Regions from separate parts of the Homo sapiens genome. Here regions 1, 2, 4, 5, 6 and 7 are each linked to region 3. The links come from fine-mapping of genetic effects on plasma protein levels. A gene starts in region 3. Each other region holds a variant in brackets. All regions are shown on one strand. Distances are between the middles of the regions. Region 1 overlaps PPP1R16B (protein phosphatase 1 regulatory subunit 16B). Region 2 has its middle 170 kb from the start of LINC01734. Region 3 holds the start of LBP (lipopolysaccharide binding protein). Region 4 overlaps DHX35 (DEAH-box helicase 35). Region 5 overlaps PPP1R16B (protein phosphatase 1 regulatory subunit 16B). Region 6 overlaps PPP1R16B (protein phosphatase 1 regulatory subunit 16B). Region 7 overlaps LOC107985448 (a long non-coding RNA gene).

What was found. PIP is the posterior inclusion probability: the model's chance that the variant is causal. The UK Biobank Pharma Proteomics Project read protein levels with antibody pairs (Olink). The fine-mapping took linkage between variants from a reference panel, not from the people measured, so its PIPs are less certain.
Region 1: its variant is fine-mapped to the plasma level of the LBP protein (UK Biobank, PIP above 0.99).
Region 2: its variant is fine-mapped to the plasma level of the LBP protein (UK Biobank, PIP above 0.99).
Region 4: its variant is fine-mapped to the plasma level of the LBP protein (UK Biobank, PIP above 0.99).
Region 5: its variant is fine-mapped to the plasma level of the LBP protein (UK Biobank, PIP above 0.99).
Region 6: its variant is fine-mapped to the plasma level of the LBP protein (UK Biobank, PIP above 0.99).
Region 7: its variant is fine-mapped to the plasma level of the LBP protein (UK Biobank, PIP above 0.99).

The regions. Positions count from the first base shown.
Region 1 is chr20:38,839,340-38,843,627 of GRCh38, reverse strand. The region is part of intron 2 of PPP1R16B (protein phosphatase 1 regulatory subunit 16B); the gene reads right to left. Among named protein-coding and RNA genes, the nearest start is that of PPP1R16B, 36 kb to the right of the region's middle. RefSeq lists an enhancer at 756-865. The variant A/G (reference allele first, on the strand shown) is at 2,157.
Region 2 is chr20:39,392,653-39,396,940 of GRCh38, reverse strand. No RefSeq gene overlaps it. Among named protein-coding and RNA genes, the nearest start is that of LINC01734, 170 kb to the right of the region's middle. The variant A/T (reference allele first, on the strand shown) is at 1,649.
Region 3 is chr20:38,343,025-38,347,270 of GRCh38, reverse strand. LBP (lipopolysaccharide binding protein) reads right to left here and starts at 789. Exons shown (of 15, transcript NM_004139.5): 1 at 631-789. The coding sequence starts at 754. RefSeq lists an enhancer at 2,736-3,513.
Region 4 is chr20:38,980,775-38,985,062 of GRCh38, reverse strand. It overlaps DHX35 (DEAH-box helicase 35), which reads right to left. Exons shown (of 22, transcript NM_021931.4): 4 at 1,287-1,364. Among named protein-coding and RNA genes, the nearest start is that of DHX35, 21 kb to the right of the region's middle. The variant C/T (reference allele first, on the strand shown) is at 2,322.
Region 5 is chr20:38,864,649-38,868,936 of GRCh38, reverse strand. The region is part of intron 2 of PPP1R16B (protein phosphatase 1 regulatory subunit 16B); the gene reads right to left. Among named protein-coding and RNA genes, the nearest start is that of FAM83D, 60 kb to the left of the region's middle. RefSeq lists enhancers at 2,177-2,246, 2,267-2,366. The variant C/T (reference allele first, on the strand shown) is at 2,316.
Region 6 is chr20:38,849,965-38,854,252 of GRCh38, reverse strand. All of the region lies in intron 2 of PPP1R16B (protein phosphatase 1 regulatory subunit 16B), which reads right to left. Among named protein-coding and RNA genes, the nearest start is that of PPP1R16B, 46 kb to the right of the region's middle. The variant T/C (reference allele first, on the strand shown) is at 2,382.
Region 7 is chr20:39,172,675-39,176,962 of GRCh38, reverse strand. The region is part of intron 2 of LOC107985448 (a long non-coding RNA gene); the gene reads right to left. Among named protein-coding and RNA genes, the nearest start is that of LINC01734, 50 kb to the left of the region's middle. The variant C/T (reference allele first, on the strand shown) is at 1,951.

The sequences.
Region 1 (4,288 bases), 500 kb before region 3:
TCATGAATAGAAGATGGTAGAAGTGATGGTACATGATTTCCAACACAAGGTCATAAAGGCATTGCGGATTCCTCTATCTCTTGGATCACTCACTCTGAAAAAAGCCACCTGCCATGCTGAGAGAACACTCGAGCTGTCCTATAGAGAGGGCCACATGGCAGGGAACTGAGGCCTCCTGCCAAGAGCCATGCCAGTGAGCCATCTTGGAAGTGGATTCTCCAGCCCCAGGTAAATCCTGAAGTGACTGCAACCTTATGAGATATCCTGAACGAGAACCACCCAGCTGAGCTGCTCTGGATCCCTGAGCCACAGAAATTGTGTGAGGCAGTATATGTTTATTGTTTTAAGCTGCTAAATTTTGAGTTCATCTGCTACGCAGAAGCAGATAGCCAACAGATAATGTGTTTATCATTCTGACTTAATGAATGAATAAATATTTAATGCCTCCGTTTAAATTTCGAATACAGTAAATATGGGTAGATAGAACCCAGCTAAACCAAAGCTTTTAGGAGTTCTCAGGTTTTAAGAATATAAAGGGCCTCTGAGACCAAAAAGTTTGAGGACCACTTCCCTAAACCCTTTACAAACTGCCCCTTTATCAAACTTTCCACAAATCACCCCATATAAAATCACCATTTGTTTCCTCCCAGGACGCTGCCTGACACAACAATACCAAAATATTATCAATGGTTGTTGCTGTTCAGGGGGAATATGGGTGATTTTATCTTCTTCTTAATGCTTCTTTTTTTCTGTACTTCTAAAAGTTTCTGTAACAATAACAGGGTTTTTTTTTTTTTAATAATTAGAAGAAAAGAAACTTCCCTTTTTAAAAGGACCAAAAGTGAAAGTCTGAGCTAGTTCCTGTAGATGAGCTGCTGGTTTAAGATGGTGGTGGCAAGGCCCAGGTGTCCAGCACTGTGCCTGGGGGTGGGGGAGGGGGTTGCAGGTGGCAGGGATGACTGAGCACCCCACCCACCTGACCCCAGTCAGAACAGCTCCTTCCTTTGTTTTACATATTGGGTTTCTGCATAATATCTCATTTAAAGAAAAGTTTCCACTGCTTAAAAAAGAGTTTGAAAACTTTTACAGTGAGAAAAATCATTAAATTTAATAAGAGTTAAATTTAGAGTACAGAAGAATCACTCAAACATTTTTTGAATGAGAATTTCCATAAAGAAAACCCTACACATTCTGAGAGAAAAACAGAAGTCTCTAACAACTTAACATACATTCAATGGTTTCAAGGGAGGCTGGGCTATTGTGGCCCTAGAAAGAAGTTATATCTGGGGCTAAAGAGTTTATCTTGGGGGCCCCAAATCAAAGGGCCCAAGATGCCAGCAGAAACACCAGGATGCCTAAGGCCAAAACAAACACAGATCAGTACAGCAACTGAGGGTTCTCTAGTTTTCTAGTGAAAACAAAAGCAGGAAGTACAGGACTGCCTGGTGGTTAAATACATGGGCTTCGGAGAAACTGATCTGGGTTTGAATCCTGGGATTGAGTCTGACACTTAAAACCTGTGAGACCTTGGCAGGTGACTTAGTCTCTCTGAGCTTCAAATTTCTCATCTGTAAAATGGGGGATGAGAATTCACACAGTGAAGCCATTTTCCAAGACAGTACAGCAGTTTCTTAAAAAGTTAAACATAATTTACCATATGACCCAACAATTCTATTCCTAGGTAATGACCCAAGAGAAATGAAAACATATATCCACACAAAGACTTGTACCCAAATTTGCCTTCCAGCATTCTTCATCCTACCCCAAAATAGAAATAATCCAAACGTTCACCTACTGGTGAATGGATAAACAAAATGCGGAATATCTATACAATGGAATACTACAGGGCAATGAAAAGGAATGAAGCCCTGATATATGATGTCACACCAAGGATGAACCTTGAAAGCAGTATTCTGAATGAAAGAAGCCAATCACAAAGATCATATACTGTATGATTCCATGTAAATAATATGTCCAGAAAAGGCAAATCTATACAGACAGAAAGTAGATTATAGTTGCCTGGGTCTGGGAACCAGGAGTCACTGCAAATGGGCATGAGGCTTCTTTTTGGGATGATGAAAAGGCTTTCTGTTTGTTTTTGAGATGGGGTCTTGCTCTGTCACCCAGGCTAGAGTGCAGTGGTTCAATCATGGCTC[A/G]CTGCAGATTTAACCTCCCGGATTCAAGCGATCCTCCTGCCTAAGCCTTCCAAGTAGCTGGGACCACAGGCAAGTGCCACCACGGCTGGCTTTTTTTTTTTTTTTTTTTTTTTTTTTTCAGTACAGACAGGCTCTCCAGGCTGGTCTAGAACTCCTGGGCTTAAGCGATCCTCTACCTTGGCCTCCCAAAGTGCTGGGATAACAAGTGTTAGCCACACCACTCAGCGATGGCAATGTTTTACAACTGGATTGTGGCTGATGGATGCACAATTCTGTAAATTTACTGAAAATCATTGAATAGTACACTTAAAGTGGGCAAATTTTATAATATGTAAACTGAACCCCAAGCTATTTTTTAAAAATGGGGTTTGACTCTCTAACCTCAGAGAGTTGCTGTGAAGATTAACCGAGATAACATATGTAAGGCAAGCTGCCTGGTACAAAGCACCTGATAAATAATAACAATGATGACAATCAGAATATGCTGTAATAATAGATTACGTAAATGTAGAATAGTGTAGAATAACAACAATTTATACCACTTACGTAGCTCTGACCATACCACTTCAACATTTATCAACTTAATTTAACCCCCCAACAACGTTATGAAGCGGGTACATCATCATCCTCATTTTTACCGATGGGGAGATGGAGGCACTGAGAAGTAAAGTAACTTTCCCAAGGATGCACAGCTAGTAAACGGTAGAGCTAGGATTTGAATCCTGGAGGACAAACTGCAGGGTCTGTGCTCCTAGCCATGACACTACACTGTCTCTCAGTAAACATCAGCTACGTATTGAGTTGCTACTTTAACCAGGGCCGGGAAAAGGCTCACAGATGGCTCCCCAGAGATCACGCTGGACTCAAAGCTGAGGGTTACAGGAGTTAGTCACAGGAAGAGTGTCCCAGACAGAGGGAATTGCATATACAAAGGTGTGGAGGTAAGATAACGCAGGGAATATGGGAGGATCTTGGTGGAGCTGGCGTCGCCTGGGGCAGAGGGTGATGGCAGTGAGAGCAGTGAGCATGGGGCTCAGGCAGGTCCAAGGGCAAGGACACTAGTCTAAAGGCAATATGGGACCAGAGGATGAAACTCAGTGAGTTCCTAGCCTGCCTTTCTCTGGAAACAACTCACATTCCCCAGGCAGGTGGGGGAGGTTGACTCAGAGGCTGCTGTGAGCTCAGGGGAGTGGGGGAGCTGCCACCCCACGCTCCCACGCCACTGTGAGCTAACACCCCGGCAGCCTCCCAAACACCAGCTCCACCAGCAAGAAGCAGCCGTTCCCAGCCTGCTGAAAGCAGCAGGCTCTGTAGTGCTGCCAGGAAGCTGAGCATAGCCCAGTGAGGTCAAGGGCTGACTGATGGCAGCCTCACACCCCTCATCCAAACCCAGGCAACTGTGGACCCTAAAACCAACCCACGAGCCTGCCACAGAGCACAGTATTCTGGCCCCTTCCCCTCACTTGGCTGCCCCATAGAGACAGGGGGACCAGCCCATGGGGTCTAGCACTTTTCTCATTCAAATTTAATACCTTCAGATCCATCTCTTTCATTTCATCACATCTGTCCTCGATAAACATTTGCACATGGAAATAAAACATTCACTGTGGCAAAAGCGAAGCTACTGGAAAAATCTGCATCAATAAGGAGCTAGTTAGAAAATTCTGGTAATCCATACTATGGAATACTACACAGCAGATAAAAATAATGGCACAGATCTGTACTGTACATGTTCTGGCATGAAAACGTCTCCAAGATATACCGTTGGATGGGAAAAAAAAAAAGAAAATTGCAGAATAATGTATCCAGGATACCATCACTTATGTAAAAACTTTTTAAAAAAGAAACCTGGCTCTATATTTCTCTTAAGTCCACAAGTGCATATGCAAATGAAAAAAATACCTGGAAAAGAAACATCAAACTAACAACAGTAGTGATGGATGGACAAAAAGAAGCAAAGGAGGGGAGGAAGGAGAGAGGGAGGAAGGGAGGGACAGAAAGGACTTTTTACTTTGTACACTTCTACGTTGATTGATTTTTACAAGAAGAATGTATCTGTGCATATTTAGGTTCTGAAAAACATTAAAGTCTGTAAAAAACAAAACAAAATAAAGTGCGTTATCACCGTGCTG
Region 2 (4,288 bases), 1.0 Mb before region 3:
CAAAATAAATGAGGGGGCATGGTAATAAATAAATACAATTATATCCAGTACCTTGAAAAAACCGTACAGGATGCTGAGATATCCTTTGGCTTGAGTGATCAGAGAAGGCCACCCTGGGGAGGACACATGACAGTTGAGAAGGAGATAGCCAGGAGGACAGATGAAGAGCATTCTGGTCCACAGTCAACAGAGACGTTCCCTGGAAGATGCTCCTCCAATTCCTCAATCCTCCAGTGATATACAAGATCAGAGTCTCTTCTGTTTTGTTGCTCAGCTTGAATCTGGTTTTCCCACTGACTCTGACTTGCACAACTATTCTAGCCTCCTCTTGGTATCAGTTTCTCCATCCGTACAATAAGGCTAATATTAGTTTTAACTTAAGAGAGCTGTTGCTGGAAGGATTAAGTGAGATAATGTTATATACTACTGGTTAACAAGAATGTTATTGCTTCTCACAGTGTAGAGAAGGGTAAGTGGACTCAAACTCCCCAAGTCATCTTCTGTACAAGCCCCTGTTTAGCACTCCCTCTATATCAGGCAACTGACCCCAAACACGGTCACCTAAGCAACCCCAAAAACAGTGGCCCCTGATACTGGCTTAAAATGCAGCTCTGGCTTCGTGTAGATTCTGACAGAATTGCCCTGTATATCCATGTGTCAACATGAAAGGGGTAAATATTTTTCCCATGTCTGTCTCCCAAAACAGAGGTTTGAATTTGATCAGGGAGCCAGAACAGCCCCCTGAACTCTCAGGATAAAGGCCTCATTCAAACCTCAGCTCATTCTCAGGTGAAGGCTTAGAGGAGAGATGCACAGCTGGGGAGGCCTCTCGCTAATTCCTGGCCAAGTGAAAGGGATCACTGGAACTCAACTGAAGTAGCTGTGGTGATCTTTTGTTTGAGCTCAAATAGCATTAAAGATTCCATTTCCTATTTACTTTGGTTCTTGGGTTTGGAAAATATCCCACCTCAGCCTCCACCTTCCTTTCCCCTCTGGCAGCAGCTGGCCTCTGTTTCTACCACACAAAGCTTGCTTTTCACCACTTACAGCCCGACCTTATGAAAGTGAGCTGGACACTAGCCCCCTCCCTCATCTGGCCATCTCAGAGGAAGCTGCCTTTGACCTTCCACTGTTATTATTGCTATTATCATCATTACTGTTATCATCGTCATCATCCTGTGCCCACCCTGCCGCCAGCTCCTCACTTCCCAGTGCCCCATTGTCCATGATGTCCAGAGTCCCTCCTCTGCTCAAGTCACTTCCGCTGCTGTAACCCCAAAGCCCTTCAGCTGTCCCCCAAGCTGCGTCCTACATCGCTTCTGCTGCTGCCTGTCCAGCTGCCTGTCCACCCACAGAACCCCCGCCTCTGATTCACTCTTTCCTTTCCTAACCTTTTCCCGCCCCATGTCCTGGCTTCATCCCACCAGTCTGTCAAAATGAACTTCCTACACTCTGGGTTCTTGAGCTCACATAGGAACTGGAATCCCCACCGCTGCTACTCCACGTCAAGCTCTTGGTGTCTTCATTGTTGAAATACTCCCTGCGTTGGTCTCGCCTCCTCCAAAGCTTCCTCCGTAAGGGCCACCAGAATGATCTCCTTGAAACCCCAAACTGGCCAAACTACTCCTCTGCTTAAAACACTTCAATG[A/T]CTCCTCACTGTTTAAGAAATGAAGAATAAATTCCTTAGCATGAAAATCCAGTTTTTCATACTTGCTTCCTACCTCACTCCAAACAAAATGTCCCAAATGCACCAACATTTTTTTTTTTTTTTTGTAAGAGATAGGGTTTCCCTCTGCTGCCCAAGCTGGAATGTAGTGGTGCATTCACAGCTTACTACAACCTTGAACTCCTGGGCTCAAGTGATCCTCTAACTTCAGCCTCCCAAACAGCTAATTTATTTATTTATTTATTTTATCGATGGGGTCTCACTTTGTTGCCCAGTCTGGTCTCTAACTCCTAGCTTCAAGTGACCTTCCTATCTTGGCCTCCCAAATCTCTGAGATTACCGGTGTAAGCCACCTCTCCCAGCCTGAAATACTTATTATTTATGCATACTATTCCTTTCTTGCCTCCTGCCTCTTGCCTGTATGCCTCCGCACATGCTGTTTCTTCTACCAGAGTTACCTTCATCTGGTCCTTTTCTGCCTGGAAAATTCCCTTTCATGCTTTAAAACCCAGTTCAGAGGCAACTCTTTACAGATAGACCTCCTTGATTGCACTAACCCAAGAGTCGGCAAACTTCCTGTAGAGGGCCAGAGAGTAAATATCTTACTTTCTGCCTTACAGGTGGTATACACTTTCTGCTGCAACTACTCAACCCTGGTGGTGGTGTGTGAAAGCAGCCATAGATGATATGTAAACTAATGAGCATGGCTGTGGTCCAATAAGATTTTCTGTATAGACACTGAAATTTGAATTTCATGTGATTTCCATGTATCATGAAATATGATTCTACTTTTGAGTATTTTTCAACAATATAAAATTTGGAAAACATTTTTAACTCATGACCCATACAAAACTAGTCTGAGAGTCACAGTTTCCTGATCCCCACAGAAGAGTCCCTCCTCCTCCTGCATATCTTCAGTGTACCCTGGTACCTTAAATGTGGCACTTTTGGCACTGGATTATCTAATGCCTCCTGAACATCTCCTTCTGCACCCACACAATGAGCCACTGAGAACAAGAACCATACTGCATTTGTCATCTCTGTGCACCTAGAACCCTAATGTTGGTCTAGAATATAGGAGGTGCATGCACAGTCAGTGTTTGTTGAATTAAGAAAATGACCTTGTGGGGGGAAGAGAAAGTGACAGTGACAAAATTTAGAATACAGTGTCATTCATAGTGTTTCCTTCTACTGACTCCTTGGACAGAGAACTTCTTGCAGAAATGTATCCTTTATTCAGATGACTTTATTTCCTTTTCCCGGTGTGATATGGGCCCAGGCTGATGTAAAATGCAAGTTATGAAAAAATTAACAATGCATTTGCTTTCTTGTTTTAACAGTTTATATCTGAGATGTGCAGAATTGGGTGGGAGGCCAGGGACAGTGTCATAAATCAGGCTCCCAAGAAGCCAACTCTGAGACAGACATTCACATGCAGCCAGTTACTGGGGCATGCTCTTGGGGTCAACATCTGTGAGGGGTGCAGGAAGAACACAAGGCAGGGGAGAAACAGAACTGGGATACAGTTGCAATAGAAGCCTTGCCAGTCCCATAAGGAGTTCTGAAGTTAGAATATCCCTTCAGAGCTGTTCCAAATTGGGATGAGGGGGCCAGACCATTATATCCTGCCCAGACCAGTCACTGAATGTGGGCTGTCCCAGAAAGAAGTGTGACCCTGGGCCAAGGGGCTTTCTTTGGCTGACAGAAATTTCCAGAGGACTCTCTTGAGGGCTGTCAACTGCCAGTGCCACCCAGCAGCTGTGAGAATGAGACATGGGAATCACAGCATTCCTAGAGCTGCACTGTCCATGTAGTCGATACCAGCCACACATGGCTATATATATTTAAATTAATTAAAATTCCCAATAAATTAACAAATCAGTTCTTTAGTTGCACCAGCCACATTTCAATCACTCAATAGCTGTGCATGTCTAGTGGCTACTATAGGAGACAGTGCAGATACAGAATATATCCATCATTCTATAAAGTTCTATTGGGCAGCTCTGCTCTAAAGAATGGGCAATGGTAGAAGTTTTCTAAAATAAACAATAATGGGCATGGGCCACTGAAAGGTCAATTTAGTTGGGAAAATTAAGCTATAATGCATAATGACAAGGACCCTTACTTGAGCAAACTGCAGATAATTGATTTATAATGATCACGACTTTCAACCCACCCATTCCTACTTGATCAGGCCTGCAGAGTCCAGTCTGCTATTACAGGAGAGAACACAGAAGTTAGCAGTGTACTGACAATCTAGCCATACTCAGTCGGTAGCTGGGCTGCATGAAGACAATATAGTTTGGGAGCTGCTTTGAACCTCCTACATAGGTGTCAAGCTCTTTTTACACACCATGCAAAATAATTAACATGGGAAGTGCCATTATTGGAAGGCTGTTTTTCTACACACAACATATAACTAATTTGACCCAACTGTCTTCCTCTATTGTGCTATTATTCACAAGTCAGTCTAGGACAGAAAGAACCTATGAGTTTGTTGATCCTTTGAACTCACATTCCATCTTTGCTGCCACTATATACTAGTGTGACTGGGAAAACCATGCCATTTCCCTATTTTCTCATTTGTAGTATGAAGGTGACAATTCCATACTACCTCCTCCA
Region 3 (4,246 bases):
TGCCTGGCCTGCCCATTCTTTAAAATTGAGGAATAATATACATAAAGTACCTAACGGGCACAAATTTTAAAGGTATTGCTAAATAATTTTTAATGTTTATACAGGAATGTGATCACCACCTGGATCAAGATATGGCAACTTCCAGCACCCCGGCAGACCTCCCTCATGCCCTTCAGGGTCTCTGCCTGCCTCTAGAGGTGACCACAATTCTGACTTCCAGTTCAGAGGCATGTGTTTCCAAACTTTACGCAGAATTTTCCCAGCTGAGTGGTTCCCATCATCAGAGGTGGTGGCTGGTTTAATTGCACACTCTCTCCTGGCTGCCCTCCCTTCCTCATCTCAGTACCGATTCCCTACAGTGTTTCCTGGAATCATTTCCCAAATCAACTACTTGCACGCAAAGCTGTGTTCTGTTGGCTGGTGGAGGACCTCACTACCACAAATAACATGCCCAGGGCACTCAGCTGGTGGGCAGTAAGGCCAGAATAGGAGCCAGAGCCACCTGACCCAGAAGGTGGCACTGCCCCAGGGAGAGGGTCCGGTCTGTGTCCCCACTCCCTGTCCCCACTGTACCCAGAGCAGCCTGGAGCGTGGGTTTGCCAAGTCCAGCCAGCAGATGTGGCTTCTTACCATACTGCAGTCCCTTGTCGGTGATCCTGGCGACCAAGCCGGGGTTGGCACCCAGAGCCTCTGGGGTGGACGTAAGCAGCAATGCCAGCAGTATGGACGGCAGGGCTCTGGCCAAGGCCCCCATCCTAGATTCCCAGTGCAGTGGGCCAGGACTGTCCCAGCTGTGGATTGGGCCCAGGTCCCTTAAGTAGCCAAGGCTCGATGGCTGGGGGCAGTTCCTGAGGCTGGATGGGTTCCTGGGAGCGGGAAGGGGAGGCACAGGGACTGGAACCTGCTTGCGACATCACTGAAGTCATAAGGTCATACTTAGAAGCCAGTTTTCACTGCCCAGATCAGTGGATGAGGAAGCCTGACTCCTATGATCATCCCTGTCCACCCTCCCCACAGAAAGACCCCATATTCATCACTGTTCATCTTGCCTCATCTCAGCCAGTCTCTTAAGAGCTCGGCTAGGAAGGCCTGGTTTAGCAGATGAGGAAACTGAGGTTCAAAAAAGCCACATAGCTCCCTTGAGATCTCACCCCCAGCAGAGGGCAGGGTTGAGAGTGAAGCTACATCTGGCACCAACCAAACTCTCTTTTTTAAAATATATTGGCTCGTTTATTTAAAAAATAAATGTTTCCCCCAATGGGAAAACAGTGTTTCTCAAACCTTGCTGGTGGTGAAATTTTCTGGAAGGCAATTGGCAAATGTTTAAACAGTTGCATGCCCTGTGACCCAGGAATTCAATTTCAGGGACTTGCCCTTAAATACATAATTGAGTCAGTGTGCCAGTAAATCACTGCTCCAAGATACCACTGCTATGCTGTGGGAAACAGGACAGGAGAAGTGAGACCCAACCTCATGTATCCACCAGAAGGGCATTGGTTAAATGAATTATGACATGCCCCTTAAAGTGAGGCTGCAGAAATAAAGGTATTTCTTGGCAAGGAAAGGGATGTCATGAGGCATCCGTTTCCGATGGCACCATAGAGTAAGGTTCTATTTTGGGGGGTTCAAAATAGGCTTCTATGTTCAACAATCTGGAAAATATTTAGCAAGGAGTCATGAGGCATTGTCTCTGGTTGTGGGGGTAGAATTATAAGTGTTAAAAAAGTTTTTGCTTGTTGATACGTACAATTTTTTTTTCTTTTTTCATTTTTTGAGACAAAGTCTACTCTGTTGCTCAAGCAGGAGTCCAGTGGCATGAACATCGCTCGCTGCAACCTCAACTTCCTGGGCTCAAGTGATCCTCCCACCACAGCCCCCTAAGTAGCTGGGACTACAGGTGTGAGCCACCATGTCCAGCTAATTTTTTGTATTTTAGTAGGGACGAGGTCTTGCTATGTTGCCCAGGCTGGTGTCGAACTCCTGAGCTCAAGTAAGCCTCCCGCTTGGCCTTCCAAAATACTGGGATTATAGACTTGGGCCACCATGCCCAGCCTCTAAAATTTTTATTTTCTTGGGGGTATGGTCCCGGGCATATATTCGCAGTAAGTAAAGATAGTAAAATTTCATTCTGGAAAACAAAATTTATAGTACAGACTGTGTTTAATTTTTAGAGTTTTGCCCCAGCCCTGCTTACATTTGTGAGTTCTGCTTTGCCCTCACCCCCAGGAAGCCTTCCCTGACCACTCCCATGCTTCTCTGGATTCTAGAAAGGGTCCCCTCTGAGGTCCCAGAACCCTTTGCGCTTTCCCCACCACAGCATTAACCACTCTGCTTTTTGATAATTGTGGTCCTTTAAAAATATGCCCACGAATTCTTTGATATTCCTTCCATCAAAAGGTAATGTTTCTGCCCCCTTCCCTTGAAATTGGGCAGGTTTTCATGATGGCCTCAACCAACTGAATGTGGTGGGATTAACAGGGTGACTCCCAATAGGTCACAAACAGCACTGGCAGGCACTGAGGTTAAGATCAGAATGTCCCACGTTAAGCACAGGGAACCCCACAGTCCAGGCCTCTCTGCTCCTCTGTACCGTGTTGCTCCTGTCACTGGGGCTGAGGTTTGTTGGGATCCTCATCCGTCCCTCCCCTCAGTCCCCACACCACCAGTCTGATGGCTCCTTGCAGGCACGGCTGAGTCTTCCATTTCCTGAGATCCTTGCAGCACCCAGCAGAAATTGGAAAGAAACTGATATTTATTGAGCACCTACTATGTGCAGGCGCTGTGCTGGTTAAGCTGCACGTCTCCTCTCATCCTTGCATCAGCAACCCCAGGTGGATATTTTAGTCTTGTCTTGAGATGAAGAAACTGAGGTTTGGCAGGGTGAAGTGATGTAGGCTGCAGTCACCCAGCAGGAATTTAAGTCCAGGTCTGCAGGATGCCATTCCAAAACTCTGGTCAGGGCAGGGTTCTCTTGGGAGGCAACAAGCTGAGCAGAGGCCTCAGGGTAAGGAGCCAGCCTTTGGGAGGCTTTGGAGCAGGAAAGGGCTCACAGGTGCATCCCCAGTGTGCCTAGGGGCCTTTGCTTCCTGGACCTCAGCCTGCCCAGGAGGGGAGGAGAGTGGGGGAGGACATTCTGGAGCATAAGGATCTTATGGGGACATAGATGTCACTCTTCCTCTGGCAGCAGTTTAAGGATGTCCCTGGCTGGGAGTCATTTGCAGGGGTGGGAATTTCCCACAGCAGCAATCTTTGGACCTTAGAGCTGCCACATGGCCCAGGCCTGGCCTCCACCCCTGCAGGTGCCCACTGCTGGCTAAGGTCCCTGCTGATGGCCCAGGACCCAGCAGAGGCCTCAGGGAGCAGCACGACCCCACTGCTGGTCAGAACCCCTGGGCCTTTCTCCTACCAGGCTGTCCATCCAATTCCACAAAAGCAACAGCTGCTACCACTCTGGCCACCACTCAGTCTTATTGCAGTGAAATAGGGACTCTTTTAACAAGGCTGTTTATTGTGTTCTTGTGCAGGAGAGGGCCCCCAGAAATGGCAGTGCATCAAATGATGGACAGGCGATCATAAAACTGTCCCTCTGACATGATAAGTGGCCACGAATGGCGCCAAGAGGGAGAGGAGTTCCCTAACAGATAGTTGACATCATCTGGAGCCAGCAAACCACAATTCCCTGGTAAGGTCGAGCAGAAGGGCAAATGTTGGAGTCTGACTTGTATATGACCTTTTTCTTGCGGCGACGGACCAGTAAGGGAAAATCACCCCAAGTGAGCATGCGCACAACCTTAGTAAACACACTGCGCATGCGGCCCCTCCCAAGTGCTGGCAGGCCATTGCGCATGCAGGGAGGGCGCAGCAGCCCACCGAAGGGAGGAATCAAGGAGGAGAAGAAACCCCAGAACCAAGCCAGTGTATAAAAGCCCCGAGCCAAAGGTTGAGCGGGGCACTTGATCTCTCAGTTGTACTTTGCTTCTTTCAATAAACCTTTGCCTCTGCTTTAAAACTTGCCTGCGTCTCTCAATTGAATTCTTTCCTCTGAGAAGACAAGGGCTGGGAGTGTTGCGGACTCGCCACCGATAATATTCTCACTACAAAAGTGTTACTGAAAAGATTTTGAAAAACCCAGAATTTGGAATCCATAGTGTCTAGAATACTGAGCAGCAAATAGTAGATAATTGCCAAAGGAATAAACAAACCTTATGTTTATCTTTATGGACTCTGGGGCCAGATGGCCTGGATT
Region 4 (4,288 bases), 640 kb before region 3:
ATACTATCAACAAAAAACTTATGGTGGCTCAGACTTCTACACAGTGATCCTCAACGCCAAAAGGCAGTGAGCAAAGTCTGCAGTTTGCAGGGACAGTGTGAATCAAGAATTTTATATCAACAAAAACCACAACTGAACATTCTCAAGCATATTAAAAAAAAAAAAAAGCTGAATGATAAAATTCAGCCAATACAAGAAATAAAAGCAAAACAAGCAATTCAAGGTTAGCAAAACCATAGAAAATAACTAATGATGAGTAATGAATCCATTCAAGCTAGAATTAAGGTTAAACACCTGTGAGAATTATGATTAAGAACATGTATATTATAAATCTTGAAATGAAAATGACAGGACTGTATCTACAACAAATGGAGAAAGGGAAGGTGGAAAGAAGAATACATGTGCTAATTTCCTCTTCTTTCATAACAGGAAACTATAAGGCGTAATTTGAAATATAGGTAACATCTTGAATTTTTTTGTACTCTTTTTTCTTACTTTTCAAGCTTTAATAAATTATCTTGCGGTGAACATTTATCCAAAGTACAGTCGCTACTCCTATTTCACTAAAGTTTCCTATTTTGTTAAATTCAATAAAAAATAAATATTAAATATGATCTCATTTTTATAAAATTATTTCTATCCAGCCAGTCAACCATTCATCTTCATCTTTAGGAGAAGCTTGGAATGATGTTCACAAATGTTCACATTGTTTATGTTGGATGGTGAAATTTGGGGTTTTAAAAATATATTGTTTTTTTATTTCCTCAGCACTTTATTGTTTAAAACGTTCATAATGTGCAGGATCAATTTAACAAAAATATTCAAATCATAATTCTTTTAAAACAGAAGACCTGGCCAGGCACAGTGGCTCATGCCTGTAATCCCAGCATTTTGGGAGGCTGAGGCAGGCAGATCACAAGATCAGGAGTTTGAGAACAGCCTGGCCAACATGGTGAAACCCCGTCTCTACTAAAAATATAAAAAAATTAGCCAGGCGTAGTGGCACATGCCTGTAATCCCAGCTACTCGGGAGGCTGAGGCAGGAGAATTGCTTGAACCCAGGAGGCGGAGGTTGCAGTGAGTTGAGATAGCTCCATTGCACCCCAGCCTGGGCAACAGAGTGAGACTCTGTCTGAGGAAAAAAATAAAAATAAAAAAAACATAAAAACTGAAGACCTAAACTCTTAAGGAGCAACTTCTATTCATTTAAAGCCTTTAGGAAATGTAAACAAATCACAAATGTAGACAACACAGATAGAATCTTTCCAACACAAAAAGAAACTCACTGTAACAGCAGCCACTCTTCGAGGCTGGGTCACTCCTACCACTCTTCCTTCAGCTGTCCAGCCGGCTTCTGCAAGGTACTACAAACAAAATCACATCTAAGTATACATATGATACCACTTTTGCAGAGCAATCTCCCCCAAGATGCTCCCGTATTGTGTTAAAATCACTAAGAAAGGAAAAAGTACAGTTCTTGTCCCAGCAGAACTTTGGGAATTATTTTACAGATGGAGGATCTGAGGCTTGGTAATGTTAGGTGATTTACTTAAGTTCACATCAAAGCTGATCAACAGAAGAACTAAGGCGCAATTCCAGCATTCTGACACCCCAGTCCTGGAAAATCACCATGTACTACAGATGCCTCAGGGAACAAAAAATTATCCACAGGTCACTCAAAACAGTGCTAACTCTGTAGAACAAAGAATTTTTAAGCACATATAGAGATGGCTCAACATAAATATCAACCACACAACACATTTCAGCCATATTAAATAAAACAACTGGATTTTATATATATGACTATACACCATTAGATTAGTACACATATATAAAATTTGATTGAACAGGCACGGCGGCTCATGCCGGTAATCCCAGCACTTTGGGAGGCTGAGGTAGGCAGATCACTTGACGTCAAGACCAGCCTGGCCAACATGGTGAAACCCCGTCTCTACCAAAAATATAAAAACGTAGGTGGGTGTGGTGGCACATGCCTGTAATCGTGACTACTCAGGAGGCTGAGGCAGGAGAATCGCTTGAACCTGGGAGGTGGAGGTTGCAGTGAGCCAAGATCCTGCCACTGCACTCCAGCCTGGGTGACAGAGAGAGATTCTGTCTCAAAAAAAAAAAAAAAAAATTTGATTAAGTGTATTTATCTGAGTTACCTACTTATTTAATATCTATGTATTTATTTGATTATATGCACTTAAAATCCAATACGGATAACAGTGGTTATCAGTTACATGTTTTTCTAACATCTAATAGTTTTACAATGAACATGTATTACTTCTACAATAGAAAAAAGATTTTAAAAGTTACTG[C/T]GTGTACCTGCTCATGTGTTCAAAAGAAATAAAGGAAGGATAATATAGATACTAAGAAATGGTTGTCTACAGGGAATGGGTGGGAAAGGTGTAGAAAGAAGGGGAAATGGAGGGAGGGGAACAGGGATAAAGAGGGCGTGTCAATGCTCTCAATAGATCTTTTTGTGTAGCTCTGACTCTGAGAATCACAGCCATGCATGTTTCACATACTTTTTAAACACCCAGAAGACAAATAAAACCAACCAGGATGTGGAGGGAAACCTAAAGGAAATATAAACACTAACAGATGACCCTTTCTATACTACAAATGAATAACATAACCACACTGCAGGGGGTGGAGAAGAAAAGAACTTACCTAAGGAATGATGGAAAAATATATCTTGACTGTATGTTGTAAGGCTAAAGACAGAAAGAACTGTACATAAATGCTGTAATCTAGTTAGTAAATATCCAAACAAGGTTACAAGTTAGCAATTCTGAAACTATTTTAATGAATCCACAAATATACTGTAGATGATAAGGACTAAGCTTCTCATTGTTGCAGAGAAGTTATAAATAAAGAAAGGCTCAAAAGAGCCCTATGGTATTAGATTGGAATCAGAAGCATTTGCATAAACTCATGGTGTTTAAAATATAGATGGATAGACAGATACAGATAGCTAGATGTTTTTATAATGTATGGCTTAATATTCATACATATATTTCCTAAGTCTGCTCACTGAGACTCAGCAATGACATCTCGTAGCAATGAGCACTCTAGCATCCGGATCATGATTTCTTTTTTTTTTTTTTTTTTTTGAGACAGAGTCTCGCTCTGTTGCCCAGGCTGGAGTGCAATGGCGTGATCTCGGCTCACTGCAACCTCCGACTTCTGGGTTTAAGCAATTCTCCTGCCTCAGCCTCCCTAGTAGATGGGATTACAAGTATGCAACACCATGCCCGGCTAATTTTTTGTATTTTTAGTAGAGACCAGGTTTTGCCATGTTGGCCAGGCTGGTCTCAAACTCCTGACCTCAGGTGATCCACCCACTTTGGCCGCCCAAAGTGCTGGGATTACAGGTGTGAGCCACCACGCCCGGCCCCAGATCATGATTTCTAAACATCATTCTCCAATAAAAGGAACCAGGGCTTGTGTAGGAAAAAATATAAGACAAGCCTGAAACATCTTGTAGTACTAGAAAGTAAGGAAGCGGTCAAAAAAATGAAAGCTTTAGAAAGAAAACAGGAGCCAAAATGAAGGAGCTTCTAATGTTCAAAGATGAAACAATCTGAGCAACACAATAAATAATGACAGTATTGGGCTTTAACACATAGAAAAAAATAAGTATCTATGAATCCATATTGATACACGCAAATAATCTAAGAAATAAGTGAGGAAGAAAGCACAGTTCTTCCTTACAGAAAATTACATTTAATAAAGATAGAGGGAAAGAGGAGAAAAGAAAATCATCACTGCTACAGACAAGATCCACTGAGGGGGATACTAAACTTAGTAGGTGAGAGTTGGAAGAAAAGTAGACTATTTGCAGTGTGAAAATATGTCCCCCAAGATACATATCAACTAAAAAGGGAAAGACAGTAGTTTCACAGGCAAAAGCTGGAACCTTAACCAAGTGACCAAAGTTGCTATTACCAGTGACAAGACATATCAACATTATGAACCCTTGAAATGATGCACTAAGGATACAATATCATTTCTGTAGTATTCTTGCCAAAAATACATAAGCTCCTTCTAATCATGAGAAAACATGACATAAACCCAAACTGAGGAACATTCTACAAAGTAAATCCCATTAGTCTTTTAAAGTGTCAAGTTCATGAAAGATGAAGACATATTGAGGAATTCGCACAACCTAGAAAAGATTAGGGAGAAACAACAACTAAATGCAATGTAGGATCCTAGAACTAAAAAAGAACCTTAGTAAGAAAACTGATGAGATTTAAATAAGGCCTATAGTCTAATTACT
Region 5 (4,288 bases), 520 kb before region 3:
CATTTAAAAAATAAAAACAGGTGATATTTTAATGATATATTTTACCTAATCCATATGTCCAAAATATTATAATTTTATCATGTAACCAGTATTTCATAATTCTGCCTCTTGACTGCAGTGCTGGTCACACAAATCTGCTCCTGCCATCAAAGATTTCACAGAGCCAAACACACACATCCATACACAAATGAATGCATATAAAACTGGCAAAATCTGGATCCAATTGGTGAACCGTATCAATGTCAATTTACTGGTTGTGATAACATATATTAGTTTTGCAAAATGTTACCATTTGGGAGGCTGAGGCGGGAGGATCACTTGAGGCCAGGAGTTCAAGACCAGCCTGACCAACATAGTGAAACCCCGTCTGTACTAAAAACAAAAACTAGCCAGGCGAGGTGGCATGTGCCTGTAATCCCAGCTACTCAGGAGGCTGAGGCAGAAGAATCACTTGAACCCAGGAGACAGAGATTGCAGTGAGCTGAGATCACGCCACTGCACTCCAGCCTGGGTGACAGAGTGAGACCCTGTCTCCAAAAAAAAAAAAAACTTACCATTTGGGTAAACTGGGTGTAGAACAGAAGGGATCTCTCTGTATTTTTTTTAACTGCATGTAAATCTATAATTATCTCAAAGTAAAAAGGCATGAGCTTAGCTCACAGGGGTGGGCCATGGGGTCCTGAGGTGAAACGCAGGAGTGGTGTGGGCATGCAGTTGTTCAGAGGGACTGTGCCCGGCGTGTACACTGTGCTGAGCAAACCAGAGTGAGCCTTTGCTCTGTGGAGCTCACAGTGATGCACAGTAACAAGAAAGCCCTGAAATAGATGGAAAACAGCCCAGGGGAGGAGCAGTAAGAAAAGGCAACCCATGCTATGAGGGTGCATAGTGCCCAGGCACGGCCTCAGCACACTCACAGGACTGCAATTTTAGGGGGAAACACCAACTGATAGAATCAAAGAATCACGGCCAGGTGTGGTGGCTCACACCTGTAATCCTGGCACTTAGGGAGGCCAAGATGGGCGGATCACCTGAGGTCGGGAGTTTGAGGCCAGCCTGGCCAACATGATGAAACCCCGTCTCTACTAAAAATACAAAAATTAGCTGGGCGTGGTGGCGGGCGCCTGTAATCCCAGCTACTCGGGAGGCTGAGGTAGGAGAATTGCTTGAACCCAGGAGGCGGAGGTTGCAGTGAGCCAAGTTCACACCATGGCACTCCAGCCTGGGCAACAGAGCAAGACTCCATCTCGGGGGGAAAAAAAAGAATCAAAGAATCACAAGAGCTGACAGCTAACACATTTTGGAAATGCTAACACATTTTGGACAACTAACATATTTTGGAAATATTCCTCTGTGCCAGGCACTGTGCTAAAGCAAGGCTTCATTTAGCTCTGGTACAACCCTTTTAAGTAGGTAGTGTATTATTATTCTATTTAACCAAAAGAAAAACTGAGGCACAGAGAGATTGAATGGTTTGCCCAAGTTCACCCAATAGGCAACAGAGCTAGGATTTGAGCCCAGATGGTCTCGCTCCAGATCCCAGCATCTGAACCATGGACCCTGGTGACTCCTGAGTTGGACCACACAGGAAGCTCATCTGTCCCTGGTGGATCTTTAACTATCCCCATCCCCCAGAATCACTCCCCACCTCGTCCCCATCAGCACCAGGCTGATGTTTGGACATGAATGGCTGGTGAGATCAAGGAGCCAAGACCACAGTGCCCTTTGGGGACATCGCTTTAACCATCACTGCAGAGGTGGACCTTAGGGTGACTCCAGCCTGGGTGTGTGTGGTTGGCGGGGGACAGGGGGTCTATCCACACAATGTAACATGATCCAGATGTAAAAGGAATAATGTACTGACACATGCTACAGCGTGGATGAACCCGAAAAACATTACGCCAAGTGAAAGAAGCCAGACACGAAAAGTCACATATTATATGAAATATCCAGAACAGATAAATCCATAGAGACAGAAAGTAGATTAGCGGCTGCCAGGGGCTAGGGGGAAGAGGAAACTGGGGAGTGACTGCTAATGAGTCCAGGGTTTCCTTTTGGGACAATGAAAATGTTCTGGAACTAAGCAGAGGTGATGACTGTACAGCTTTGTGAAGGTACTTAAATGCCACTAAATTGTACACTTTTAAATGGTTAATTTTGTGTTTTGTGAGTTTTACCTCAATTTAAAAGAAAACACCAGTACTTTGCACACTGCAGGGTGCCTCTGCTCCACAGTGCAGATTCCTGACATCACCAGACAGAGGCTGAGCTCCAGGCCCAGGAGACCCACCCTCCATCCCAGGCCATCTCCTGCATGG[C/T]GGGCTGTATCCCCTCCATGGGAAAAAGATGTGCCTTGCCTCACACCCCAGACATCCATGGTGTGAGAAAAAGCAAGCAGGCCTTCTTTGGGTTCGTTTCTGAAGGGCTAGCCACAAGAGTGCTGGCGAGATAACAGGCAGCTGCTACGGGACGCTGACCATGTGTCAACGCACCTTCCGGGGCATTCTGTGTCATCCACATTGCAAAGGAGGCTGTTACTGTGCCCCATTCTACAGATGAGGGAAAGAGACTCAGAGAAATCAAGTCAGTTGCTGAAGGTCATGCAGCAAGTCTGGGGTAGAACCCAGAGGTGCCCCTTCTTCCCGCTGCACAGACACTCAGCCCACAGAGGACAGCACACCCGGGATTTAGGAGCTATTCTGTTCCCCAGGGGCCCATTGCCTAAGTGATTTTCCTTCCTCTGAAACCAGAAGCAGAAATCAAACCTCTCGAATTTTTATTATTTATTTATTTATTTTTAATTTTTTTTTTCTCCGAGACAAGAGTCTCACTCTGTCGCCCAGGCTGGAGTGCAGGGGCATGATCTCACCTTACTGCAACCTCTCCTTCCAGGGTTCAAGCAATTCTCCTGCCCCAGCCTCCTGAGTAGCTGGGATTACTGGCACACGCCACCATGTCTGGCTAATTTTTGTATTTTTAGTAGAGACAGGGTTTCACCATGTTGGCCAGGCTGGTCTCGAACTCCTGACCTCATGATCCGCCCAACTCGGCCTCTCAAAGTGCTGGAATTACAGGTGTGAGGCATCGCCCCTGGCCACTTTTCAACTTTTTAAAGCCAAGGTGATGAGTGGTGCCCTCAAAACAGAGGCAGGCTCTGCAGGGGCCGCTGGGATTACACCAGAAGCAGGAGACCCGGAGATAGGAATCCGGCCCTGCCACCTACTGCCATGGGAACATTCAGTAAGTGACAACCCCTCGGCACCTCTGTCTCCTCATCTGTGAAGTGGAGCCCACCTGTGCAGGACGTGAGTGGAAGGTGTACCAGGTGACGCATCTAAAGAATGCAGCAGGCCGGGCGCGGCGGCTCACGCCTGTAATCCCAGTGCTTTAGGAGGCCGAGGCAGGCGGATCACAAAGGTCAGGAGATCGAGACCATCCTGGCTAACACGGTGAAACCCCATTTCTACTAAAAATACAAAAAAATTAGCCGGCCGTGGTGGCGGGCACCTGTAGTCCCAGCTACTCGGAAGGCTGAGGCAGGAGAATGGCGTGAACCTGGGAGGCGGAGCTCGCAGTGAGCCGAGATCGCGCCACTGCACTCCAGCCTGGGCGACAGAGTGAGACTCCGTCTCAAAAAAAAAAAAGAAAAAAAAAGAATGCAGCAGTGTACATGGCACAGGGTAGGTGCCCTGTGCAAGTCAGAGGTCTGTGTGCCAGGACACTGACCAATGGGCCCAAGGAGGCAGAGTATGAAGAGTGAAGCCTCTATTTCTCCTTCCAGTTCCCTCAACCGGGGCCCCAGGATCATCTAACACTTGGGCCTGGACGTGGGTAGAATTTGCCTCATACTCCAAACCAGAAACTCGGGCCATTCTGAATTCCAGCCTGGCTAAGGGGACAGAGCCCAAGAGACAGATAGCCCCAGAGAACCAGGGCCGAGGCCACCGGCATGATTCCAGGCCAACCCAGCCCATTTAATGGTGTTTTCCCAGCCAGAAGGAGGCCATGCTAATTAAGTGGAAACCGGCAGTCTGCAAATCGATTTCTGCAGCTCCAGCTCCAGGAGGGGCCAGGCACTCTCAAACTGGGTCAGAGACATGTTAGTCCCACAGTGTCACCCAGAAACACCCACTTCTTGTCTGCCTCTCAGAGCCTGGCTCTCTGCTGGTACCTAGGCCCTACACCCTGTGCACCCAAGTCCTGGCAGATCCCTCTGTGAGAGGTGGGGGACTCCGGTGGTCTTTCTGGGTGAATGAGGTCCTGTGACTCCCTCTGTTATACATGAAGTCCG
Region 6 (4,288 bases), 510 kb before region 3:
AATGCCACCTAAACACTAGGCATTCTCAACCCAAAGTCCGGGGTTCCCAGAGAGAGGCAGTGTTTGGTCCACCCCATACATCTCAGACATTCCAGGGACATCAATAGCCAATTACAGTGTTCGAGCAACATGATGTGCCCAGGGTTATCACATCGAGTTGCTAGAATTCGGATCTAAAGCAAAGCAAAGTCTAGAATGTGTGGTAGATTATAACAATGGCCCCCAATGAATCATGCCTTTCAGTACCCAAGCGCTTGTATAGACTCTTCCCACACTGACTCTGAGCTTGGCCACGTGATCCGTTTTAGCCAATGAGACATGAGCAAGCGCGATGCAGGCAAAGGCTGGATAAATACTTGTGCATTGGGGCTTACTTGCTTGGAACCCTGAGACCATCATGCTGGATAAAGGACCACAGGCAGAGAGAGGCCAGGTCATCCCAGCTGAGCCCCAGACACTGGCTGACCCAGCAGCTACCTGTAGCCTCATGAGTGAGCCCAGGCAGAACCAGCAGAAGAACTGCCCAGGGAAGACCAGCAGAAAGAGTGCCCAGTCAAGCCAAAGAATCATTGAGAAATAAGAAGTTGTTGTTTCAATCCACTAAGTGTTTCAAGAGTGGCTTGTAATGCAACAAAAGGCAAGTGATTACAGTCTAGCTCTTGACACTGATTCACCTGGAGGACTGCCGTTACTACTTTTGTGGTGCCCAGGAAATTTGGGGTCCTTAAGCCAAAAAGCCTGTGTCCTGAGCTTCTCTTGAAAGACTGAAAACCCTAACACCTCCATCAAGATTTGGGTTTCATTTAGCTTTTCCAGCATAACTGGCAGAGGTACCATTTCCCTCTCCCCTACTCAGCAGGTTTCTTGTATCTTCTTCTCTTAGTCTTCACCTCTGCTCTGCATGCAACTTCCTCAGCCTAACATGGTAGACAAAGGATGAGGGCAGTGGGACCAGCTCTGTTTGTTGGTACAAATATGGGATGGACATGTTGGAAAATGTAATACTCTGAGAAGATTCTGGAACATTCCTGTTTTTCAAACCCCAGTGTTCCTCCATGTGATGCTCCAGCTTTGGCGATTGTTGAGAGAAAGGCCTGAAGTCTGTGCGTACAAAGAGCCTCATGAATTTTGTTGACAGAAATACTGACCATTTTCTCACTCGATTAGAAAGGAAACAGTGGGGCCGGGCGCAATGGGTCATGCCTGTAATTCCAGCACTTTGGGAGACCGAGGGGAATGGATCACCTGAGGTCAGGAGTTTGAGACCAGCCTGGCCAACATGGTGAAACCGTCTCTACTAAAACTACAAAAATTAGCTGGGCGTGGTGGTTGGCACCTGTAATCCCAGCTACTCAGGAGACGGAGACAGGAAAATCACTTGAACCTGGGAGGCGGAGGTTGCAGTGAGCCGAGATCATGCCACTGCACTCCAGCCTGGGCAACAGAGCAAGACTTTATCCCCCCATGCTACCCCCACCCCCCGCAAAAAAAAAAAAAAAAAAAAAGGAAACAGTGGTCCCTAGAAGCCAAGCAAGAATCAATCATGCTAGCAATGCCTCATCTATCTTCTCAATGGGTTCACTACACTGAGAAATGTCAAAGATAGAAAATGTCTAGACTCCATTGAGCACCTGACAAGCCTCTCATACACCTCCTTATTAGCACCCTGGGGAAATGCTGGTTGAGTGTCATTGTGGTTTGATTTGGGGGAGGTTCCAAGGGAGTTCCAATTGGTTAAATATCCCCAAGATCCCTAGGATGGTATCACCTTGGTGATCGACCATGGTTGACCAGCCTACCAACAGCAGTTTCTTCTCCCAAGAGCAGTCTCATACTATCCAAGTTTATGAGGCTGCTGCATAAAAACACAATGCCAGGATCACAGGAGAATAATTGCCTTGCATGTCTGAAATTCAGTTAAGCACGGTCAACTCATTCTGTGCTTGTAGGCAGACCTGGCTGGGACGCCAAATTATAATCAGAAGGTTGTACATAATCATCATGTTTAATGATTACGCCAAGATCACCAAGATGGGTTGAAGTCCCCTTTTTCCATAATCAGATTGTCCTTAGCAATGGGATGGTAATCACCAAAGTTGTTGCTCACAGTGTCCTCTCCCTTGAACGATATTTAAATAGAATTGTTCATAAATGATCTCCTAGCCCCCTTTTTCTGGCATCTGTTCTTGACAAGGCCTTCCCCCCCCGCCGTCCCCGCGAGATACAGGGCCTTGCTCTGTCACCCAGGCTGGAGTGCAGTGGCACAATTGTGACTTACTGCAGCCTTGCCCACATGGGCTTAAGCAATTCTCCGGCCTCAGCCTCCCAAGCAGCTAGGACTACAGGCCCACACCACCATGCCTGGCTTTTGTTTTTGTTTT[T/C]GTTTTTGTTTTTGGTAGAGATACAGTCTCAATATGTTGCCCAGACTGGTTTCAAACTCTTGGTCTCAAGTGATCCTCCTGTCTTGGCCTCCCAAAGTGCTGGGATTACAGGTATGAGCCACCATGCCCAGCAAGGCCTTCTTTATAATAACACCATCCATTGTTAAGCATGTTAATACTATGCTCTCTTCACAATGACTTTGCTAGACTCTGAGCTCCAAGGTGGTCTGGCCCATTTTGTTTTGTTCACCACTGAACAACCAATGCCAGCCTGATGATGTCCAGACTATGTTCCATAAATGTCTGTGCATGAATTGCTACTCTGATCCATCACATTTTGTTGTAATTTAACCCTCAGAGAGAAATCGTCTTCTAAGTTTTGTAGGAAAGATGGTTTTTTTTTTTTTAAGATGGAGTCTCACTCTGTCACCCAGGCTGGAGTGCAATGGTGCAATCTCAACTCACTGCAACCTCCACCTCCTGTATTCAAGCAATTCTCCTGCCTCAGCCTCCTGAGTAGCTGGGATTACAGGCATGCACCACCATGCCCAGCTAATTTTTGTATTTTTAGTAGAGACTAGGTTTCACCATGTTGGCCAGGCTGGTCTCGAACTCCTGACCTCTGGTGATCCACCCACCTTGGCCTCCCAAAGTGCTGGGATTACAGGCGTGAGCCACTATGCCCAGCCAGCTTTTTTTTTTTTTAATTGTTTTTTAATTGTCGAGACTCCTGCTACTGTTCCCACATACCAACTGCAAATAACAATGTAGTTAAGTTCATTTCAGTTGCACAACTATTCCCAGTAGTTGACTTTGATACATTAATCTGGAAAAGGTCTCCGGGGGTGTGGCCCCAGGCAGCATCTCTGCCCATGACCTATTCAACAATTTTTTTTTTTTTTTTGAGATGGAGTCTTGTTCTATTGCCCAGGCTGGAGTGCAGTGGCATGATCTCGGCTCACTGCAACCTCCACCTCCCGTGTTCAAGCAATTCTTTTGCCTCAGCCTCCCGAGTACCTGGGACTACAGGTGCCCACCACCACACCTGGTTATTTTTTGTATTTTTTAGTAGAGACAGGGTTTCACCATGTTGGCCAGGCTGGTCTCGAACTCCTGACCTCAGGTGATCTGCCCACCTCGGCCTCCCAAAGTGCTGCGATTAACAGGCGTGAGCACCACGCTGGGCCCTATTCAACATTTTTATCAGGGATTTGGATAATGGCCTATGACTGTGTTTCTAAGTCAGCAGCCTCTAGCTTAGCCACAGTTGACTACATTATTTCTAACTAAATACAATAAAAAATTTAGCAGCTATTGTATTGGACAGCACATTTCCATCATCAGAAAAAAATTCTATTGCACAATTCTGGTCTAGAAGGCAAATCCTTATTGCAATTATGAATGATATGGAGTAGAAACTGCCGGTGAATATTTCATTTGAGGTGAATATATTTAATTATGGCCTGACAAGCATCCATTCTCCCTCCTTCTGGAAATATCATCCCAATATTTTTGGGGGAGTGGGTAGGTACAACATAATACCAAGTGTCAGTCCATGTGTTTGGGAGAAGCAGACTCCAGGAGTGGGCATATGGCTCCAACCAGACCAATCATAGCATTGCTTCCCTTATCTAGCCATTACAATTGACTCAGGAATCGACCTCATAGCCAATGAGGTTCCATTCTGGGACTTGTTGAGCCTGGGACACTTCTGGGAAAATAAATTATTCTTACTGAGGTTGCCAAAAGGATTTAGGATATATATTTCAAGCTGCTGATAGTCGTCTTCTCAGAGACATTTCTTGGTAGTCTCATGCATCCACAAGTGCCTGAAGCTGTGCTATCTTTGAACTCTCCACTACGTGAACACTGTTTTGTTAACCTTGTTAGCTTGAGTTTTTGTCACT
Region 7 (4,288 bases), 830 kb before region 3:
ACTCTTAATGCTGCTTCTGAATTTGCACAAGCCTGAGAGTGAAGGCCTCCTTAAATTCTGCACCCTGGCTTGCCTTACCCTAGTCCCAGCCCTGTATCTGTGCCCCAAACCATTACCTATCCAGAGCTCTTCAACGTGCAAGAGGTTGTCATTCTGGTGGCCTTCCACTGGCTTCCACTCCTCTCAGCTGTATCTATTAAGCCTAGATAACCCAGGGCACAGCCAGGTCTGTCCCCTCTGCTCTGGGGCTGAAATCCCAGCATTCCCCATGCCCCAGCCCATCTCAGCCAGGACAGAGTGCTGGCTCAGCAATTCCTCCATCCAGGTGGCTTCCGCTGATCATGAGTTCACAAGGACTCTGAGTGGCCCTCAGGATGACAGCTCTTTTATCACTTGGTGTCACAGCATGAGCCAGGGAAGGAGGCAGATGATATGACTGTAAAGTCATGTTTCCAGAAATGCCAACCAGCCTTCTCTGACACCACACCTGGACCACCAGCTCCTTTGCCAACTTCCCCATTGTTTTATTATAATGAGCAACAAGCTCATTAATAACTCTCCCCCCACTTCCTGAGTCCCAGCCACAGGGGGAACCAGCAGGTGCAAGGGGCTCACAATTAGTTCTTCATAATGCATGGTTGGCAATAAACCCACTCTGAAGCTGGAACAACCAGGATCCAGCTCCGTGCAGTGTCTGCAGCCACTGGAGTAATTAATGGCAGAGCCATAGGATAGTGAGTTAACCCTTATGAAGCCATCAAGCCTAGGAATCTTGGGAAATTGGAAACCTCAAGAAAATAAAGCATTTTGCATGCACTAGAAGAAAATGGCCAACATCTGGTCTTAGTCTTCCTGCCTGTACCTCTGGTGTTACACCTGCACCACCATTACCACCTCTGTGAAGACACGCTGAATCTTTGTGCTCTGCCCTGTCCTCTCACCCCCGCATTTCCACTGGCAGCCCAGCTGGCTCAGATGAATGTAGGCATTGGGACCTTTATCGGAAAAAGGCAACCTGGGGCCCACGGGGAGATCATGAGGTTAGAAGTAAGTACTACAGGGGAAAATAAGTTCTTAAACTACAGCTGAGCAAAGGGGACCATCCAAGGGCACTAAGCAGGCGTGGAAATCATAAGTGTGTAATGAGCTCAATCTCCACAGTTGTGTGGTTTTCTCCAGCAAAGAATGATAAAGGTTACGTAGGACTGCCAAGAGTGTATCAGACAAAGGTCACAGGAGTGGTATACAACAATGAAGCCTAGATTGGGCATATTGGGGATTCAATCCAGGAAGGGCTGGTAGACTCAGAGTAGGGAAATAAATACCAATGGGGTTAGAGAAAGGTCAAAAAGGCAAGTCAACAAAAGTGAAAGAAAGGAGGAAGAAGGACAGCAGGGAAGGACCTCTTAGAACCTAAGATTTCAGAGGCCAAGTGTTCAAATATAATGACTAGATCCAAACCATGGTCATGGGCTTAGGTAGTTGTCAACAGGGCCATCCCATTGGATAACTCCAGGAATACCATTCACATAAAATTCAAAGGAGTTGTGCAACATGGTGGCTGATGGAGAGTAAGTGCCAGTCATTGGAGATGGGGCAGCCAAGCAACTGTAAAGCAAGGGCAAGGGAGGGGTGACCCTCAGGAGCACTGGAGATGCCCTGGATGATGGTGGGATGATTCAGGGTAGAGAGGAAGCCTGTGGTGTGGGAAAAATAGGACCTTGGCCCCAAGCAAGCCTAACCTCAAATCCAATTCCCCTATTACTGTGTGTCCCTGTAGCTATCTCTTAGCTCCTCTTGGTTTCTGGTGTCATGTTTTTATAATGGAATCAAGAGTACTTAACTTCAGGGTGGTAATGAGAATTTTTAAAGATGGTTTATGTTCAGGAGGATGCTATTCTGTGACTTCTTTGCAATCAGATCTGTTCCTCCCTCTTCCCTAACTCTCCT[C/T]TCTATCAAAGAGAGCCAACCTCTGACTTGGCTTCAAGATCAGCTGGCTTCCAGCAGGAGAGGGCCAATGGGAAGTCCTGTTGGGAGACTGGAAGGCAAGAGGAAGGAAAATTCTGGCTATTTTTCCATCATCTTCTTCCTCCCTCCCCAGGCAACATCTCTAGCAAGAGCAGAACCTCCTCGATGTTTTCAGCTCCTGTGGAACAGGACACTTGATATTTCAACTTCTGCCCCAAAGCCCTGATAACTACATCATTTCCCTTTGCCTCTCTAGCCCTGGAGATGGTAGTGGCTTCCCACTTTTGAATAAAGTCTGGATGGCCTCACCCTCTCCTACTAAGCTTCTCAACTTTTCCATCACCTGTGTAATCAACTCCATAATTAAATTCTCCCTTTTACTTAACTGCTACAAGTGCCTAGTGTCATGCTTGGCACACAGGGGAAACTTAAATAGCTTTCAGTTATTTTATGTTTAGGTTAACATTATTAACATTTAGTTTTCCAAGACCTTTGAGAACGTGGTAATCATTCCACCAAAGATTGAGACCAGGATGGGAACAAGATGGCATAACTACTCACATGTACTTCTAAGGACAGAGATGGCTGATGGACGATTACAGGGTATATTGTTTACTTAGGCCTCTAAATCTCACCTTCAAAATGGTGACTGAGTGCTTGTCTTTATATCCCAGGGCCTGACACAGGCCCTGGAACACAGCAATTCCTCAAAGTAATAGTTATTGGACTGACTTGAAATCTTTCTGGATGTGTAGTCAGAACAGCACTTATTTATGAGTCTGGAAAGCCCTGAGTTCAGGTTGCAGGGTCTCACCTGTGTGTGCACAGAAATTTTAGAAATCAGAAATAGATTAGGAGGGCCGAGATTAGAGCAAGATGAGTGAGGCACTTTTCTCAGGTACAGAACTTAAAAGTGCACCAAGAAAACTCAGCAATCAGAATACATATTATATGGCAACATTTTAAAATCATAATTAGTGCAAAAATCCATAATGAACAAAATATCAAAATTTGAATAAAGATAGGATTCACATTATGGATTTTTTTCTTTTTGCCTAAGGCTGTAGTACAGCTGAGCCCATGCTGACTAGAACTGAGTAGCTACTTTCTATAATTACTCCGCTAGTACTTCAGGAGCCTGATGTCCCTGGGGTTAAGATCCTAGTCCCCCCAAACACACACACTGCTATATATAGGCTCTGAAACAGGGACTGGGTCTGCCTTATTCCCTGTTGTAACTTCAGCTTCTAAAACTGTGCCTAGCACATAGTAGGTGCAAATAAACATGTTAAATGAATGAATGAATGAAAGAACAAATTGTCTCCTCTGTATTCTTGGGATTCCAATAGGATCACCAAGAAGGTATTCTAACAATGCACCTTTAAAAAAATAGTCTAAACTCACTAGGAATCAAAGAAATGTAAATTGAAACAACGAAGTGCAATTTTTCACTGTTAGAATTAGCAAAGGTTTAAGAGATTGACAATACGCTGGACTGATGTGGAAATCAAGAAAAGGACATTCCTATGCATTACTGCTAGGACTGAAAATTAATGCAGTGTTTCTGGACAGCAATTTGGCAATATGCAACAAAAGCCCTTGGAAAGTACATTTCTTTTGACGAGCAATCCTACTTCAAAGAATTATTCTAAGGAAATAATTAGGCAAGTGCCAGAAGATGTTTCTTCCAAGGAGTTTTATCACAATATTGTTTATAACAGCAAGAGCTTGCAAACAGCCTAAAGGTCCAAAAGTATTGGACTCATTAAGAAATACTAATAAATTGATGCTTCATATGATGGAATACTATGCAGCTATTTAAAATGATGATATGGCCCCCTATTTACTTAAAATAGAAGGATATTTATGATGTGTTAAATGAGATAAAAGATAAAGCAATTACTGTAATCACCAATTTTAAAGTATACATGGAGAATGTTTAGAAGGTTGAATATGAATGGTGGTTATCTCTAAGTAGCAGAATATCAGATAATTTTAATTTTTTTTGAGACAGGTCTTACTCTGTTACCCAGGTTAGAGTGCAGTGGCCCCATGATCACGGCTCACTGCAGCCTCAACGTCCCCAGGTTCTGGTGATCCTCCTGCCTCAGGCTCTGAGCAGCTGGGACTACAGGCATGCACCACCACACCCAGATGATTTTTCCTTTTTTTTGTAGAGACTGGGTTTTGTCATGTTGCCCGGGCTGGTCTCAAACTCCTCAGCTCAAGCAATTTGCTCACCTTGGTCTCCCAAAGTGCTGGGATTACAGGCGTGAGCCACCATGCCAAGCCTAGATGATTTTAATTTTTTAATCTTTCA